Linked DNA regions of Homo sapiens. The protein of the gene in region 2 interacts with the protein of the main gene of each other region in a biochemical or structural test. Each region holds a gene or a part of one and is shown on either strand. Other genes may lie near its edges.

Region 1 (3,888 bases), on a different chromosome or scaffold from region 2:
AAAGAAAATATTCTAATTACTCCTTTTCTTTTTCTTTTTTTTTTTTTTGACAGAGTCTTGCTCTGTCACCCAGGCTGGAGTGCAGTGGTGCAATCTCGGCTCACTGCAACCTCCACCTTCTGGATCCAAAACAGTCTCCTGCCTCAGCCTCCCCAGTAGCTGGGACTATAGGGGCGCACCACCACACCTGGCTGATTTTTGCGTTTTTTTGTTTGTTTTTGTTTTTTAGTAAAGATGGGGCCTCACCATGTTGGCCAGGCTGGTCTCAAACTCCTGACCTCAAGTGATCCACCCACCTCGGCCTCCCAAAGTGCTGGGATTACAGGCATGAGCCACCGCGCCTGGCCTCTAATTACTCTTGGGATAATTTTAAATAAGTGGCCATTAAGTAGTAAGACACTTCTGTTGGCCCATTGGAACCCGTGAAGGAAGCTCTGGAGCTGTTTAAGGGAAGAGTGCTCATGCCACAGGCCCTAATGCCAGCTGAGCAGAAATGCCAGGCGAGTAGCTGGAATAGTCTCTACAGGAGATTTTAAATCTCTGTCAAAACCTGTAGTGGACAGGCTTCATCCAGAGAAACAGAAGCAGGTGGAGATACACATTAGAGACTCATGGCAAGGAATGGCTTATGCAGAGGTGGGCTGGCCAGGTTTGTGGGACGTCTGTAGGACAGGCCAGCCAGAAGGCAGCTGATCTCCCCGGCCGACTGAAGCTGCCTTCCACAGCAACATCTCCCACATGCCAGCAACAACCACGAGTGCATGTTCCAAAGCTATTAGTAATGTCTCACACTCAATAGCCATTAAAGCGTAAAAATGTCATTCCGAATGTTCTTTTGTTCTGGACTCTGTGAATAGCACTGCGTTGGTCTGAGTCACCATTGTGAAAAATAGGTGGATATCTAAAAGATGAGGAGAAACAGACCTATGTGAGGCCAGGATCTAGAATACAGAAACAGTTCTAAAATGTGGTAATTTGAAACAAGCCACTCAAGAGTAAAATATGAGACTAATGAGAAAACCCAGATGGACTGATAAAATAAGAAAAGGACTTTAACCCTCTGGGAATCAGGGAATTCAAAACTAAGATGGCAAAAAGATTTTTTTTTACCTTTACGGTACTGGAAAAAAATTTAAATTGTGACTATACCAAATATTAGAGAAGGTGTAGAAAACTTAGACCTCACATGAGTTCGACTAGAATGTAAATAGGAACAAAGATGTTAGAGAATAATCTAGAAAAAGTGAAGGTGGGTGTATCCTAAGATCTAACAATTCCACTTCTAGGTATCTCCTCTAGGGAAAACCTGGTCTGTGTGCATAAGACACACACAGTGGATATTCACTGAAGCAATGTAGTAAAACCCTGTTTTGAGATCATGTAGATTCACATGCAATTCCCTTCACCAGTTTCTCCCAACAATAACATCTTACAAAACCATAGTACAATGCCACAACTAGAAAATGAGCATTGATACAACCCATTAACTTTGTTCAGATTTCAGATTCCACCAGTTTACATGTACTCATTTTATAGACTGCTCTGTGTGTGTGTGTGTGTGTGTGTGTGTGTGGTATGCACGTGCGCTTAGTTCTCTGTAATTTTATCACCCATGTAGAACCATGTGACCACCAACACATCAGAGGACAGGAGAGTTTCATCACAGGATCCTTGATGCTACTCTTTATAGCCAAGCTGACTTCCTCCTTCCCCCTCCCTGAGGCTGGCAACCACAGTATGGTTCCTATTTTCTATAATTTTGTCGCTTTAAGAATGCTCTATAAATGGAATCATACACTATGCAACCTTTCGAGACTGGCTTTTTCCGCTAAACGCAATTCCCTTGAGACCCATCCGGGTTGGCAAGCATGTCCATAGGTGTTTCTTTTTAATTACTTAGTGGTGTTCCGTCATCTGGATGAACCAAGGTGTGTTCAACCGTTCACCCAGGAAGGGCACTTGGATTATTTCCAGGTTTTGGTTATTGCAAATAGAGCTGCTGTGAACATTCTTGTACAGGTTTTTGTGTGAACATAGTTTTCATTTCTCTGGGATAAATGCCCAGGAGTGCAATTGCTGAGTCATATGGTTAGCACATGTCTAATTTTATGAGAAACTGCTAACTCTTTTCCAGAATGGCTACACCATTTTGCATTCCCACCGGCGGTGTGTGAGTGATTCAGGACCTTCCCAGCCTGGGCAGCATTTGGTATTGCCACTATTTTTTTTTTTTATTATTTTAGCTCTTCTAATAAGTGTGTAGTGATATCTCCTGATGGTTTAATTTGCATTGTCCTGATGGCTAATGACATCAAGACCTTTTTATGTACTTATGGCCATCTGTGTATCCTCCTCAGTGAAAAGTCTGTTCATGTCTTTTGCCTACTTTTTAATTGGATTGTTTGGTTTTAACAACTGAGTTTTCCTAATTCTTTATATTTTCTAGATGCTGGCCTTACCACTCGGTGATTATTTTCTACCACTTTATCTTGTTTTTTCACCCTCTTCACAGAGTCCTTTGCAGAAAGTTTTACATTTTGTTGAATTCAAGTTTATTAATTTTACCTTTTTTGGATTTTGATTTTTGGTGTGAAGTCTAAGTCTTCACCTAGCCTGAGGTTCCCGAAGATTTTCTCCTTTTTTCCCTACAAATTTTATAGTTTCACATTTTATACTTAAGCCTATTTTCCATTTTGAGTTAATTTTTGTATGAGGTGTGAGGTTTAGGTTGAGGCTTATTTGTTTTGGTTTGGTTTGGGTTTTGCCAACGAATGTCCAATAGCTCCGGGACTATTAGTTGAAAAGGTGATCCTTCTTCCATTAAATTGCTTTTGCACCTTTGCTAAAAACCGTTTCCACTTATTGCTGTGGGTCTATTTCTGGGTTCTCTATTCTGTTCCATTAGTCTATATGTCAGTCTCTCTGCCAAGAGCACACTGTCTTGATTACTGTAGTTGCATAGTCAACTTTAATCAGGTGGAGTGACTTCCTTCCACTTTATTATTCTTTATAAAACTTATGTTAGCTATTGTAGGTTCTGGGCCTTTCCATATGAATTTTAGAATAGCGCGTTTATGGGTGCAAAAACCTTGCTGGGATTTTGATAGGAATTTCTTCAAATGTATAGATTAGGGAGAATTAATAGTTCTACTGTGTTGAGTTTTCCAATCCATGATCACAGGTTGTCTCTCTATGGGTAATTAGGTCTTCTTTAACTTCTTTCATCAATGTTTTATAAATTTCAGTGCACAGATTCTGAATCTGAAATTTCTTTACAGTGTACATAAGTGTTTTATTTTCTTTGGGGCATTTCTAAATGGCATTGTGTCTTAACTTCAGTTTCCACGTTTATTGTGGAGTAGGTAGAACTGTGAGTAATTTTTATGTGTCAGTCCACATTCTGCAACCTACTGAGCTGCCTTATTAGATCTAGGAGGATTTTTTTTGGTAGATTTCTTGGGATTGTCTATGTAGATCATCATGTTATCTGCAAATTGGATAGTTTTATTTCTTCTTTCCAATTTATATACTTTTTATTTCTTTTTCTTATCTTACCGTACTGGTTAGAATGTCCAGTGCTATATTCAATAAGAGTTGCAAGAACTTGCCTTATTCTGACCTAAAGGGCAAAGCACTGAGTTTTTACCACCAATTATGATGTAGCTATAGGATTTTTATGGATGTTCTTTATCAAGTCAATAGTCCATGTCTATTCATGAATGTGTGTTGTATTTTGTCAAATGTCTTTTCTGGGACAATTTATATGTTCATGAGATTTTTCTTCTTTGACTTCATGGTATGATGGATAGTTGATTGACTGACTCTCTAATGCTGACCCACCCTTGAGTATCTGATATATATTCCACTTAGCCATGTATATAACTTTTT
Region 2 (3,888 bases):
TAGCTATATAGAGAAAAACAGAGGCACAGATAGATATAGAGAGGGATAGATAGAGATAGAGAGAGGAATGGGTAGATATATATACAGAGAAATATACAGGGATGGATAGATGGATGGATGATGCATACATAAGATTGATGGATAAGATGACTGACAGATAATAGAGACGGATGCATGGAAAAATAGATTGGTTGATAGATAATATATAGATAGAGATAGATAAATGGATAGATGGATTAGATAAATAGATGATATAGATACCTAATATAGATGGATACATAGATAAGACAGATAATATAGGTGTATCTATCAATGGATAGAGGATGCATTGATAAGATGGCTGGGCCGGGCGCGGTGGCTCACGCCGGTAATCCCAGCACTTTGGGAGGCCAAGGCGGGCAGATCACGAGGTCAGGAGATGGAGACCATCCTGGCTAACACGGTGGGTGAAACCCCGTCTCTACTAAAAATACAAAAAATTATCCGGGCGTGGTAGCGGGTGCCTGTAGTCCCAGCTACTCGGGAGGCTGAGGCAGGAGAATGGCATGAACCCGGGAAGCAGAGGTTGCAGTGAGCCAAGATCGCACCACTGCACTCCAGCCTGGGAGACAGCGAGACTCCATCTCAAAAAAAAAAAAAAAAAAAAAAGATGGATGGATGAATGCATAGACAGACAAAATGGATGGATGGACACGTAGGTGGGTAAATAATAGATAATATGTGTGTGTATACATATATAGGTAATCTATCATATATATATGTAAAATGGGGTACACATATAGGTTAGCGGAAGATTAAAAGAGTTTTTTAGGATAATTTGGCTAAATGAGGGGTCAAGTGCCCCTTCTCTGTGCCCCAGTTTCCTCCTCTGTCAAATTTGAGTAATAACAGTCCCTCTTTTGTTGGTTGGTTGTGAGAATTAATGAGTTCACGTCGCCAAAGTACTCGCTACAGAGCCTGGCTTATACTATGAGAACTCAGCTAGAAATGTCATTTAGACCAGGGGTTCCCGGCCAGGGAGCACTTGACAGTGTCTGGAGACCTCTGGGCTGTCAAAACTCAGGGGGAGGTGGTGCTACTGACATCCTGTAAGCAGTGGGGAGAGGTGCTACATCCTCTAGTATGCAGGACAGCCCCACCACAGAGGATGATGTGGCCCCAGATGTCAACAGTGCCAAGGGTAGGCCACCTCAATTCAGACCTTCACCCTCACACAGCTGTGGAAGGAATCACTTTCTCTTGACTGTGGCTCTGGTAGCAATCACCACGATATGTTGCCAGGTTTTGTATCTCTTTCCTGGTTGGAAGAAATTTTATAATTTATTTCCTTTTTTCTTTAAACATTTCTAAATTTGGAAATCAGCTTCTTCTTCTTCTTTTTTTTTTTTTTTAAGTATCTTGCCTCAGAACAAAACCAATCCCAGCTAAGGTCCTATCACTGATGTGGCTAATTAGAAGTGCTTTTCTTCTTCTTCTTCTTCTTTTTTTTTTTTTTTTGAGACAAGAGTCTCACTCTGTTGCCCAGGCTGGAGTGCAATGGCGTGATCTCAGCTCACTGCAACCTCTGTCTCCTGGGTTCAAGCAATTCTCCTGCCTCAGCCTCCCAAGTAGCTGGGATTACAGGTACCCACTATCATGCCCAGCTAATTTTTGTATTTTTAATAGAGATGGGGTTTCACCATGTTGGCCAGGCTAGTCTGGAACTCCTGGCCTCAAGTGATCCACCTGCCTCAGCCTCCCAAAGTGCTGGGATTACAGGCGTGAGCCACCACACCTGGCCAAGGTGTACTTTTCTATCAAGGTTCAGAGACAGATCTAAAATGTATCTTCCCCTTCTAGAATACACGGGTCTAAAACATACCTGCCACTTCTGAAAGAGCCTGATCTAAAACTATCTTTCTGTATTAAGAGAAACCATATCTAAAACATATCTTATGCTTCTAAAAGAGCCTGATCTAAAATGTATCTTCCCCTTCTAGAACAAGCAGATCTTTTTTTTTTTTGTGAGACTCCTGGGCGACAGAGTCTCACTCTGTCGCCCAGGCTGGAGTGCAGTGGTGGGATCTCAGCTCACTGCAGCCTCCGCCTCCTGGGTTCAAGCGATTCTCCTGTCTCAGCCTCCCAAGTAGCTGGGACTAAAGGCATGTGCCACGACGCCCAGCTAATTTTGTACTTTTAGTTGAGACGCGGTTTTACCATGTTGCCCAGGCTGGTCTCCCTGACCTCAGGTGATCCTCCTGCCTCAGCCTTCCGAAGTGCTGGGATTACAGGCATGAGCCACCACGCCCAGCCTAGAACAGGCAGATCAAAAGCCTATCTTCCCTTTCTAGAAGAGCCTGATCTAAAACATATCTTTCCCTTCTAGAAAAAAGCAGACCTAAAACGTCTCTTCCCCTTCTGGAAGAGCCTGACCTAAAACGTATCTTCTCCTTCTAGAAAAGGCAGAGTTAAAACATATCTTCCGTTTCTAGAAGAGCTGGATCTAAAATCTATTTTCCTCTTCTAGAAAAGCCTGACTTAAAACTTATCTTCCCCTTCTGGAAGAGCCAGACCTAAAACATATTTTCCCCTTCTAGGAAACTGGGAATGGGGCAGTGAGGGAGAAGAAGCATTTTCTCAGGGTCAGGTGTGGGCTATACCTCAGCCACCAGGCAGCCCTGGGGTTCCATGTCCAGCTGCACCTCATGCCTCTCATTGTCCAAGAAATCCTCCAACTTCAGGAATTTGAGGGCACACAGGCCCCGCTGGTCCCGCCAGAACACAGCCAACTCCAGTTCCCGTGCCTGGAGGGAGAGGAAGAGGGCCATCACTCAGGGTGCCAGAGGCATGGAACCCCTCCTCCTCTAGGCCCTGCTGTCCTCCAACGCAGCTCACCCTTTCCAGCTCCAGAGTGAAGCTCTGGTCCCAGGCATTGGGGCCACATGGCTTCCAAGACGTCTGCCCCACCACTGTGTTATCCAGCTTAAGCACAGTGCTGACTTCACCTGAAATGGGAGAGAGGGCCCAGTCAGAAAATGCTGGCAGTAGCCAGACAAGGTTGCTCATGCCTGTAATCCCGGCACTTTAGGAGGTTGAGGCAGGCGATCACTTGAGGCCAGGAGTTCAAGACCAGCCTGGCCATCATAGCGAAACCCCGTCTCTACTAAAAATACAAAAAATTAGCTGGGCGTGGTGGCACGCGCCTGTAATGCCAGCTACTCGGGAGGCTGAGGAAGGAGAATCACTTGAACCCAGGAGGCAGAGGTTGTAGTGAGCCAAGATCGTGCTACTGCGCTCCAGCCTGCGTGACACAGCAAGACTCGGTCGAAAAGAGAGAAGAGAAGAGAAGAGAAAATAAAAACGGCCAGGCACAGTGGCTCATGCCTGTAATCTCAACACTTTCGGAGGCTGAGGCAGGTGGATCACCTGAGGTCAGAAGTTTGAGACCAGCCTGACCAACATGGTGAAACCCCATGTCTACTAAAAATAAAAAATTACCCAGGCGTGGTTGCACATGCCTGTAATCCCAGTTACTCGGGAGGCTGAGGCAGGAGAATCCCTTGAACCCAGGAGGCAGAGGTTGCAGTGAGCCGAGATCACGCCACTGCACTCCAGCCTGGGCAACAAGAGTGAAGCTCCATCTCAAAAAAAAAAAAAAAGAAAAAAAAAAAAGAAAAAGAAAGAAAATCCTGGCAGAAAGGGGCATGTCTATTATCTTTTTCTTTTTTTTTTTTTTTTTCAGTAGAGATGAGTCTTGTTATGTTGCCCAGGCTGGTCTCAAACTCCTGGCCTCAAGTGATATTCTCCTGCCTCAGCCTCCCAAGTATCTGGGATTACAGGCATGAGCCACCAGGCCTAGCTGTCTGCTATCTTTTTAAAATGAATCCTCCCCTCCATAACTTTTCTCCC
Region 3 (4,519 bases), on a different chromosome or scaffold from region 2:
GAGGGCGTTCCAGGCCCGGGCTCCGGCGCCCTAACTTCTACCCTCTTCAAGAAAGAGGGAGCGCCTGGCTCCTTTTTGCCTCGGCAGCTGGGTGTCTGTTTTTAAAATAATAATGAGAGGGGGAAACGCGTTCCATTGCTCAGCTGCCCCCTTACCAACGCCTTGGGCCTGCAGGGAGGAGGGGGAGGAGGAAACCTCAGCGAAGATATTGGGAATGGGGGAGGGGTGCCTCCAGGGAGCCCCCGGAGAGAGGTCCCTGGAGAAGCACTCCTTGGGAGAGAGGAGGAGGGAACCCCTTGGGGAGAGAGAAGGCGAGTCCCCTGGGGGAAGCGAGGCCCCTGGGACAGGCCACCCACAGGTAACAGGACTGCGCTGCCCCAGGAGAGCGGCAGGACCGGTGGCCCGCTCCCCGCGCCCGGCGCCGGGGTAGGATGGGGGTGTCCCTGCGCTCTGGGGGCTGGGGACAGGGGGGCGGGCAAAGGCAAAAGAAAAAGAAGGGAGCCGGCGCGAAGTCTCAGTTATGAAAAAACGCATTGAGCTCCTCGTACATGGGGCCCCGGTCGTGGTGAAGGTGCATATCGTAAGACAAGAGATTCTCCGAGTGGACGCCCCCGCGCACAGCCGACGAGCCGAAGACTAGCCCGTGGCCCGTGGGCCGCGAACCGGGCAGCGCCGAGTAGTGCATAGAGTAGTGGTAGCTTTTCTCGTGGTCGGGCGAGGAGTCCTGCTTGAGTGAGAAGTTGCCATTGAGACAGAGCGGGGGGCTGAGCGGGCCCTCGTACTCGGAGCTGTTGTAGTCCGGGCTCGCGCCGCCACCGCCTGCCGCCGCATACAGCGTCTCGTAGGCGGCGCAGTAGCCGTGGGTCCGCAGGGCGTGCGCCGCGCCGCCGCCCAGGCCGCCGGCCGCCTGGCACTGTGCGCCCGCCAGGCGCGAGCACGGGTACGGGTAGGGGTGCATGGCGAACGGGCCGCCCGAGCCGTGGAAGCGGCCGGCACCGTCGGCGCCTTGCTCCGTGAGGAAGTTGCGAGAGTTGAGCTGCAGACAGCCGGCCACCAGATTGGTGGTGGGCTGCGACAGACCCTTGCACAGAGTCTGCACGTAGGACACTAGGTCTGGCCGCTTGCCGGAGCGCAGGATCTCCGAGAGCGCCCAGATATAGTTCTTGGCTAGGCGCAGCGTCTCGATCTTGGACAGCTTCTGCGTCTTGGAGTAGCAGGGCACCACCTTGCGCAGGTTGTCCAGGGCTGCGTTCAGGTCGTGCATGCGGTTGCGCTCCCGCGCGTTCGCCTTCTGCCGCCGAAGCTTGGAGCGCTCCAAGCGCGCCTTGGTCATCTTGCGCTTCTTGGGCCCGCGCTTCTTGGGCCGCTCGCCCTCCGCCTCGTCCAGTCCTTCTTCCTCCTCCTCTTCCTCCTCCTCCTCTCCCCCCAGCTCGCCTTCCTCCTTGACCTCGGCCAACGTGGCCTCCGTCCCCTCTTCTCCACGGAGAGGGACTGGCTTGGCCGCCCGGGCTGGCCCCGGAGCCCCTGGCCCGGGCGCAGGCGGTGGCGGTGGCGGCGCGTCGCCCTTGTCGCTCCTCGGCTCGTCGTCTTCGCCGTCGCCCCAGCTGGCGAACTTGGGCACGTCCGAGAGAAGGCCGGGCTCGCTGAACAGGCGGGTCAGCATGGTGCCTGAGGGCGCCCCGCGGGCGGGAAGGGGAGACAGACAGCACAAAGTGAGGGGCGCGCTGGGGTACCGACGCCCCCCCACAACCCTCCTCCACCCCCGAGTCTCGTGCGGGCTCCTGCCTAGGCTACCCTGGATGCCCACCTCCGCCGCCTGCCCCGCCCAGAGCCGGCCCAGCCCTACCCGGCTGCCGGCCTGGGATCTCGGCCCAGGCCCTCTCCCCGGCGCTGGGCCCCGGCTCCGCCCCTCGCTTGAATGGGGGGCTGCTCCCCGCGCCTGCTTCTTCTCAGGGTCAGGGCAGGGACCGGGTGGGGGTTTTAGGGACCAGATATCTTTGCCAGGGGAGGCGGCGCGCTCGCCCTGAAAGCCCGTTCTCTCCTGGCGGTGGAGAGAGGCTGGTCGGCCGCCGGTGGGGACAGCTGCCCCGCTCCGCGCTCTCGCGGCCCGGGCCCCCCGGCCCAGCTCCCTCACCCCTCCCGTGGCTCTCACCCCCACGCTCCCTAATCCAATTTGCAACTTGGCTGCGCGCCGCCCCTTGCTCGGCCCCCACCCCCGCACCCCCAATTCCAGAGGCGGGAGGATCGTCTCCTCTAGCCGATGCGTCCCCAGCTCCCGGAGCCGGCTCTGGGCGGCGAGGACTGAAGCAGCGGGGCGTGGGGAGGAGACTGAGAGAAGCGAGCCCAGTCCGTCCCCTCTGCGGTCAGGGACCCCCTTCCCCCTTCAAGCTGACTCCCTCCCACAAGGCTCTTCAGATCTCGTTGTATTTTGGGATTGATGGGGGAAAAATCCAAATTTGTTTGTTTGCTTCCCTTTTTTCGGTGGTGGGGAAAGGTGGCAGGCTTTTTGGGACAACCATGGAGGGGTCCTCCGTCTCGGCCTCTTCGCATATCCCCCTCCGTGATCCTGCCTTCCCCCCCCACCGAGCCCATCGCAGGCAGAGACACCTCCTCTGCAGCCCCCTGGGCTGCAGCCCCTAAGGGAGAGAGAACCTGGGGCCCCTCCGATGCCCACCCAATGAGGGGGGCATCATCCCAGGAAGGAGGTATTTGAGGACCCTCCTGTCGGCCGAAGCTGCCGCCCCTCCTCCCAACCGGCGGGTCAGATCTCGCTCCCTTTCGGACAACTTACCTCGGAGAGGAGTCAAGGGGAGAGGGGAGGGGAGGGGGGGAGGGGGCAAGAGAGAGAGGGGGGAGAAGAGGGATCTTCTCGCTTATTTCATTGTTCCCCCATCTTCAGGGAGCGGGGGCAGCGGCTCCTCAAGGCGGCGGGCGCCGGCGTCTTCAGAGCGCCATGCGAACCGCGGAGCGAGTGTGGCATCTCTACCAGGCGGGGTACCAGCCTCTATGCCAGGCCATATGGGCTTGGCACGTCACGGGCAGCAGCTATCACATGAGAGACGGTGATTGGCATGCGTCTGCACTGGGGGAGAGCCGGCTCCCCCGGGACCCGCCGCCATCTGTCACTCTCTACTCCAAAAAAAAAAAAAAAAATTAAATAAATAAAGGAAATAAATAAATATTTCTGCCGCCCTCCCCTCCCCGCCCAACGCAGGGAAAGCAGGGATTGAGAGGAAGGTGGGAGGAGTTGCCCCCTGTATATAGAGACCCCCTCACGGGAACAATGGGGTGGCAAGGCTGGACACTGGGGGCTCGTGGTGGCCAATTCTATGCTCCCTCAGGGTCCCGCTCTGTCCATTTCCTCCCCTGCAGGCCCCCAAGGTGGGTCAGGGACCAGACCCCGGGTTGGGGAGAAAGGACCTCTGTGCTTGCCCCCACTCCCCAGGAGGGTCCCCTTGGCCACAAAGGGACAGCTGAGACCCCCTCCCAGGATGGCTGTAAGGGGCGTCCCTGGCCCGAGCCCCATAGGTAGATGTTGGCACCATGCCATCCCTCATCCCTGTCTGCCCCTCCCCCACCCACCCTCACGCACACACAACATATGTGGCTAAACGAAATTCAAACCAAGGGAAAGACAGAGAAAGGGAAAGATGTGCCTGGATGTCTGTGCCTCTGCATGGGCGTGTGTGTGTCTGTGGGGACATGTGTGTATCTGTGGAGTCAGCCGATGGGAGATCTTTCCTTGGTTGTTGGGGGCGTATCCATGTTAGGGTGGAGTGGGGAGGGGCCGCGAGATGAGCCTGTGCACCACCCATCTGGGGGTGGAGGGGAGGGTCTAAGTCTGGATTCCTAACCTAGAAACCTCTCACTCTCCTCCTCCCACTGCCAGACAGGTGACCAGTCCACCAGCGGCTTTCTCTCCTGGTCTTCAGACTTGGTTATTTGAGGGAGGAGGAGCAGGCAGTGCTGAGAACTGCCTAAGTTCCTGGATGAGACTCAAGCATTCTCCTCCCCTTCTGAAAAATCTGAAAATACTGAAGCCAACCCCAGTAATCCCAAGAGTGGCCAAGGGGAGGTAGGTCAGACAGCTGTCTTGATAAGGGAGGTAGGAAGTTGCTGTTTTATCTTGTGGCTCACCTTTCAACACTCTCATTGGGCCAGACACAGATACAAATGGCACAGGTTGAAGAGGTGGCTTTGGACACACACACACACACTCATGCACACACACATACACACACACACGGATGCATACACATGCACACATATACCTGTTCCTCACCCTGTGGTGTAGAAAAATAGATAACATACCCCTACTCAGATAGACACATGTATGTGAGCAGGTAATCACAGCCTGGTGTAGACAGACCCTTGCCCACACCCCATTTGGAGCATTTGTATGTTTTAGACCCACATTTCTGCCCCTCCAGACACTCTAGCTGACATATATACACAACTTCAATTATACTTTCAGCACACACATTTTGATGTCTACCATGTGCCAAGCACTGTGGTGGTA
Region 4 (3,888 bases), on a different chromosome or scaffold from region 2:
CGATATTTCCTCCCACCCCCTACAATTAGGAGCAGACTGTATACCAGGAACACAATGAGTACTTTATGGCCACCTCGAGTAGTAAGAACGAGGATGTCCATTTCTGTGAACAAAGGTGTTGTTGCGTGACTTACCCAAGGCCACTCAGCTGGGGATGTCGGCACTGGGTTTCAGACCAAGGCTTTTGGCCCCAGCACTCTGCTCTTGCTACCATGGGTGCTTCCCAAACCCTGCTCCTAATGGTGGAGGCAGAGGCACACACCACTCTCTGTGAGCTGGGGAAGTAGCCAGGACCAAGCCTCAGGAAGGACAAAATCTCTTGGAAGCCCAATTCTGGCTTAAAAATTCATGTAAATGTTGGATCCTCCTTCAGAATCTTACGTGCTTGTGGTTGGGCACAATGGCTCAAAGCCTGTAATCCCAGCATTTTGGGAGGCCAAGGTGGGTGAATCACTTGGGGTCAGGAGTTCGAGACCAGGATGGCCAACATGGTGAAACCCTGTCTCCACTGAAAATTCAAAAAAATTAGTTAGGTGTGGTGGCGGGAGCCTGTAATCCCACCTATTGGGGAGGCTGAGGCAGGAGAATTCCTTGAACCTGGGAAGTGGAGGTTGCAGTGAGTCAAGATCATGCCACTGCACTCCAGCCTCGATGACAGAGTGAGATTCTGTCTCAAAAAAAAAAAAAAAAGAAAGAAAAGAAAAAGGAAAACAAAAAAGGCCGGGTACAGTGACTCATGCCTGTAATCCCAGCACTTTGAGAGGCCGAGGTGGGTGGATCACCTGAGGTCAGGAGTTTGAGACCAGCCTGGCCAACATGGTGAAACCCCATCTCTACTAAAAATACAAAAAAAATTGGCCGGGCATAGTGGTGGGCGCCTGTAATCCCAGCTACTCGGGAGGCTGAGGCAGGAGAATCGCTTGAACCCGGGAGGTGGAGGTTGCAGTGAGCCCAGATCGTGCCACTGCACTCTAGCCTGGGCAACAAGAGTGAAACTTGGTCTCAAAAAAAAAAAAGAAAGAATCTCATCTGCCTGTTTTAAATTCCCTACTAGCCTTAATGTTTTCCCCAAAACTGTGAGGTGGAATGGGTTCTGTAGGGAGATATGCCACATTTATCCCATGGTTTTGAATATCACCTACACAGTGCCACCCCACAGAGGCTCAGACCTAGTTAGAGAAGTGTGGGGTGTGCAATACCATTGTGAACAGAATATGGATGCCCTGTGGCCAAGGGTGGAGTCCTGGGCTCAAGCGATCCTCCCAGCCCTCAGCCTCCCAAAATGCTAGGATTACAGGCATGAGCTACAGTGCTCAGCTGACAGGTGGAATTTGACCATTGGGTCAGAGCGCGGGCCATTTTCCCGATGCTTCTACCTCCCCTCATAGGACATTCACCATGGCAATGGCACCCAGCAGGCGTTCTACAATGACCCCTCTGTGCTCTACATCTCTCTGCATCGCTATGACAACGGGAACTTCTTTCCAGGCTCTGGGGCTCCTGAAGAGGTACAGCTCCTGGGCGTAAATGCAGACCCTCCTGGCCCCTCTGGGAGGTGGCACAATGGGACCTGGCGGGGAGCCACGGAGGCCCATGGTGGTGTTGGTACCTGGGGAGTCTGGGCTCCTAGTGGGAGGACCACACTGATCTGACTGCCCCTCCAGGCAGAGCAGAGGTCAGTGGAGTGAGATCTGGAGGCAGGGGTGAGGGCAGGGGCAATGTTTGGGACTCCCAGGTGGTGAGAATAGCCCTCTCCCCAACTCTGGTGCCAGGTTGGTGGAGGACCAGGCGTGGGGTACAATGTGAACGTGGCATGGACAGGAGGTGTGGACCCCCCCATTGGAGACGTGGAGTACCTTACAGCCTTCAGGTAGGGACTGAAAAGGGCCATGGTAGTCAGTGGGAGCCCCTCTGGGCCCTGCAGTGGGAGGGGCAGAAGGCACTCAGTTCAGTGTGGGTAGAGGGGGTTGTCTCTGGGAGGATAACAGTGGGGCGAGGCCTGGCCTGGTCATCTGCCGGGCTCAGCTTGAGCCATCCCTTTGCAGGACAGTGGTGATGCCCATTGCCCACGAGTTCTCACCTGATGTGGTCCTAGTCTCCGCCGGGTTTGATGCTGTTGAAGGACATCTGTCTCCTCTGGGTGGCTACTCTGTCACCGCCAGATGTAAGCCTGCTGGGGGATTGAGGGAGGAAGTGAAACAGTGAGGATATCGAGTCCAGTGAGGCATGGGGCAGGGAACAGACTGATATTGCAGCAGACGGGGAAAGCAGGGGGCAGGGCCTAGACTTGGAATCATCTTGGTAACTCCCCCAACTTGTCCTCTGCCAACCCCGGCCTTGAGGGGATAGGAGGTGGCAGTGGGGTAGCAGAGGATAGAGGATGTATCCTGCCGGAGCTGTAGAGATGGGCTTGTTGGTCCCTGGTGTTTCAGTGATGCTCCTTGTCATTGGATTGGAGTCTTCAGCCAGTCTGTTAATGTTTTGACTGTGATAGGGCATTTAGTTCACTGATGCTGTATTTTATTATGGATATATTTGGGTTTATATCTCCCATCACATTTTGTGCTATTTGTCCCACCTCTTGTGTTTCTTTTTCTCTCCTTTTCTTTCTTTTTTTTTTTTTTTTTTTTTGAGGTGGAGTCTCACTCTGTCACCCAGGCTGGAGTGCAATGGCGTGATCTCGGCTCACTGCAACCTCCGCCTCCTGGGTTCATGCCATCCTCCTGCCTCAGCCTCCCAAGTAGCTGGGATTACAGGCGCGTGCCACCATGGCCGGCTAATTATTGTATTTTTAGTAGAGACGGGGTTTCACCATGTTGGTCAGGCTGGTCTCGAACTCCTGACCTTGTGATCTGCCCGCCTTGGCCTCCCAAAGTGCTGGGATTACAGGCGTGAGCCACCGCGCCTGGCCTTTTTTCTCTCCTCTTACTGGCTCTTGAATTGATTGATTACCTTTCGCCATTTCTTCTTCCTCCCTTCACCCATCCTCAAAGGTTTTGGCCACTTGACCAGGCAGCTGATGACCCTGGCAGGGGGCCGGGTGGTGCTGGCCCTGGAGGGAGGCCATGACTTGACCGCCATCTGTGATGCCTCTGAGGCTTGTGTCTCGGCTCTGCTCAGTGTAGAGGTAAGGGGTGGGAAGGAGCTGGGAGGTGGCAGGCCAGAGGTCTGAGGGGCCAGCAAGGGGTCAGCCAGCACTGGGAGCCCCTTAGGAAGCTTTTCCTTGGTCCTAAGGAACAGCTAATGGCCAGGCTTTCTGAGTATGCGTTTGTCCAAAAAGGCCATGTTTGCCCCTGTTGTGAGGGATATCTGGGGCTGAGTGGGGCAGTTAGAGGGGTATGCATGGCAACCCTACTCCCCACCCTAAGCCTTCTCTTCTTTCCCCTGCCAGCTGCAGCCCTTGGATGAGGCAGTCTTGCAGCAAAAGCCCAACATCAACGCAGTGGCCACGCTAGAGAAAGTCATCGAGATCCAGAGTGCGTGAGGACACGTAGAGGGGCTCAGGCTGCCAAGGGGGCACGGAGCTTGTGGGAGCACCAGGACTGGGACTGTTCATGTGGGTGTCCTCTGCCCTCCCTGACCCCTTGCCTGTCTCTCGTCCACAGGCAAACACTGGAGCTGTGTGCAGAAGTTCGCCGCTGGTCTGGGCCGGTCCCTGCGAGAGGCCCAAGCAGGTGAGACCGAGGAGGCCGAGACTGTGAGCGCCATGGCCTTGCTGTCGGTGGGGGCCGAGCAGGCCCAGGCTGCGGCAGCCCGGGAACACAGCCCCAGGTAAGCAGCAACCCGCACCACCTCTCTGCCCTCACCCCTGCTGGTGCGCCCCACTCAATACCCTCCCCTGTGCTTGCCCCACAGGCCGGCAGAGGAGCCCATGGAGCAGGAGCCTGC

The links.
Region 1: of the proteins of PKN1 (region 2) and MBP, one has a biochemical effect on the other in vitro, tested with the Homo sapiens proteins (one study listed by BioGRID).
Region 3: the proteins of PKN1 (region 2) and NEUROD2 form a complex in vitro, tested with the Homo sapiens proteins (one study listed by BioGRID).
Region 4: of the proteins of PKN1 (region 2) and HDAC5, one has a biochemical effect on the other in vitro, tested with the Homo sapiens proteins (one study listed by BioGRID).

The regions. Positions count from the first base shown.
Region 1 is NC_000018.10:77,126,207-77,130,094, reverse strand, and holds part of MBP (Golli-MBP), read left to right. Parts: exon of another isoform or gene 1-1,735; intron 1,736-2,446; exon of another isoform or gene 2,447-3,888. UniProt on the Homo sapiens protein: The classic group of MBP isoforms (isoform 4-isoform 14) are with PLP the most abundant protein components of the myelin membrane in the CNS. They have a role in both its formation and stabilization.
Region 2 is NC_000019.10:14,457,127-14,461,014, reverse strand, and holds part of PKN1 (serine/threonine-protein kinase N1), read right to left. Parts: intron 2,985-3,888; coding exon 2,875-2,984; intron 2,784-2,874; coding exon 2,640-2,783; intron 1-2,639. UniProt on the Homo sapiens protein: PKC-related serine/threonine-protein kinase involved in various processes such as regulation of the intermediate filaments of the actin cytoskeleton, cell migration, tumor cell invasion and transcription regulation.
Region 3 is NC_000017.11:39,604,937-39,609,455, forward strand, and holds the start of NEUROD2 (neurogenic differentiation factor 2), read right to left. Parts: upstream 2,985-4,519; 5' UTR 2,792-2,984; intron 1,669-2,791; 5' UTR 1,664-1,668; coding exon 515-1,663; 3' UTR 1-514. UniProt on the Homo sapiens protein: Transcriptional regulator implicated in neuronal determination. Mediates calcium-dependent transcription activation by binding to E box-containing promoter.
Region 4 is NC_000017.11:44,078,383-44,082,270, reverse strand, and holds part of HDAC5 (histone deacetylase 5), read left to right. Parts: intron 1-1,388; coding exon 1,389-1,508; intron 1,509-1,772; coding exon 1,773-1,870; intron 1,871-2,045; coding exon 2,046-2,164; intron 2,165-2,993; coding exon 2,994-3,127; intron 3,128-3,391; coding exon 3,392-3,476; intron 3,477-3,605; coding exon 3,606-3,771; intron 3,772-3,855; coding exon 3,856-3,888. UniProt on the Homo sapiens protein: Responsible for the deacetylation of lysine residues on the N-terminal part of the core histones (H2A, H2B, H3 and H4).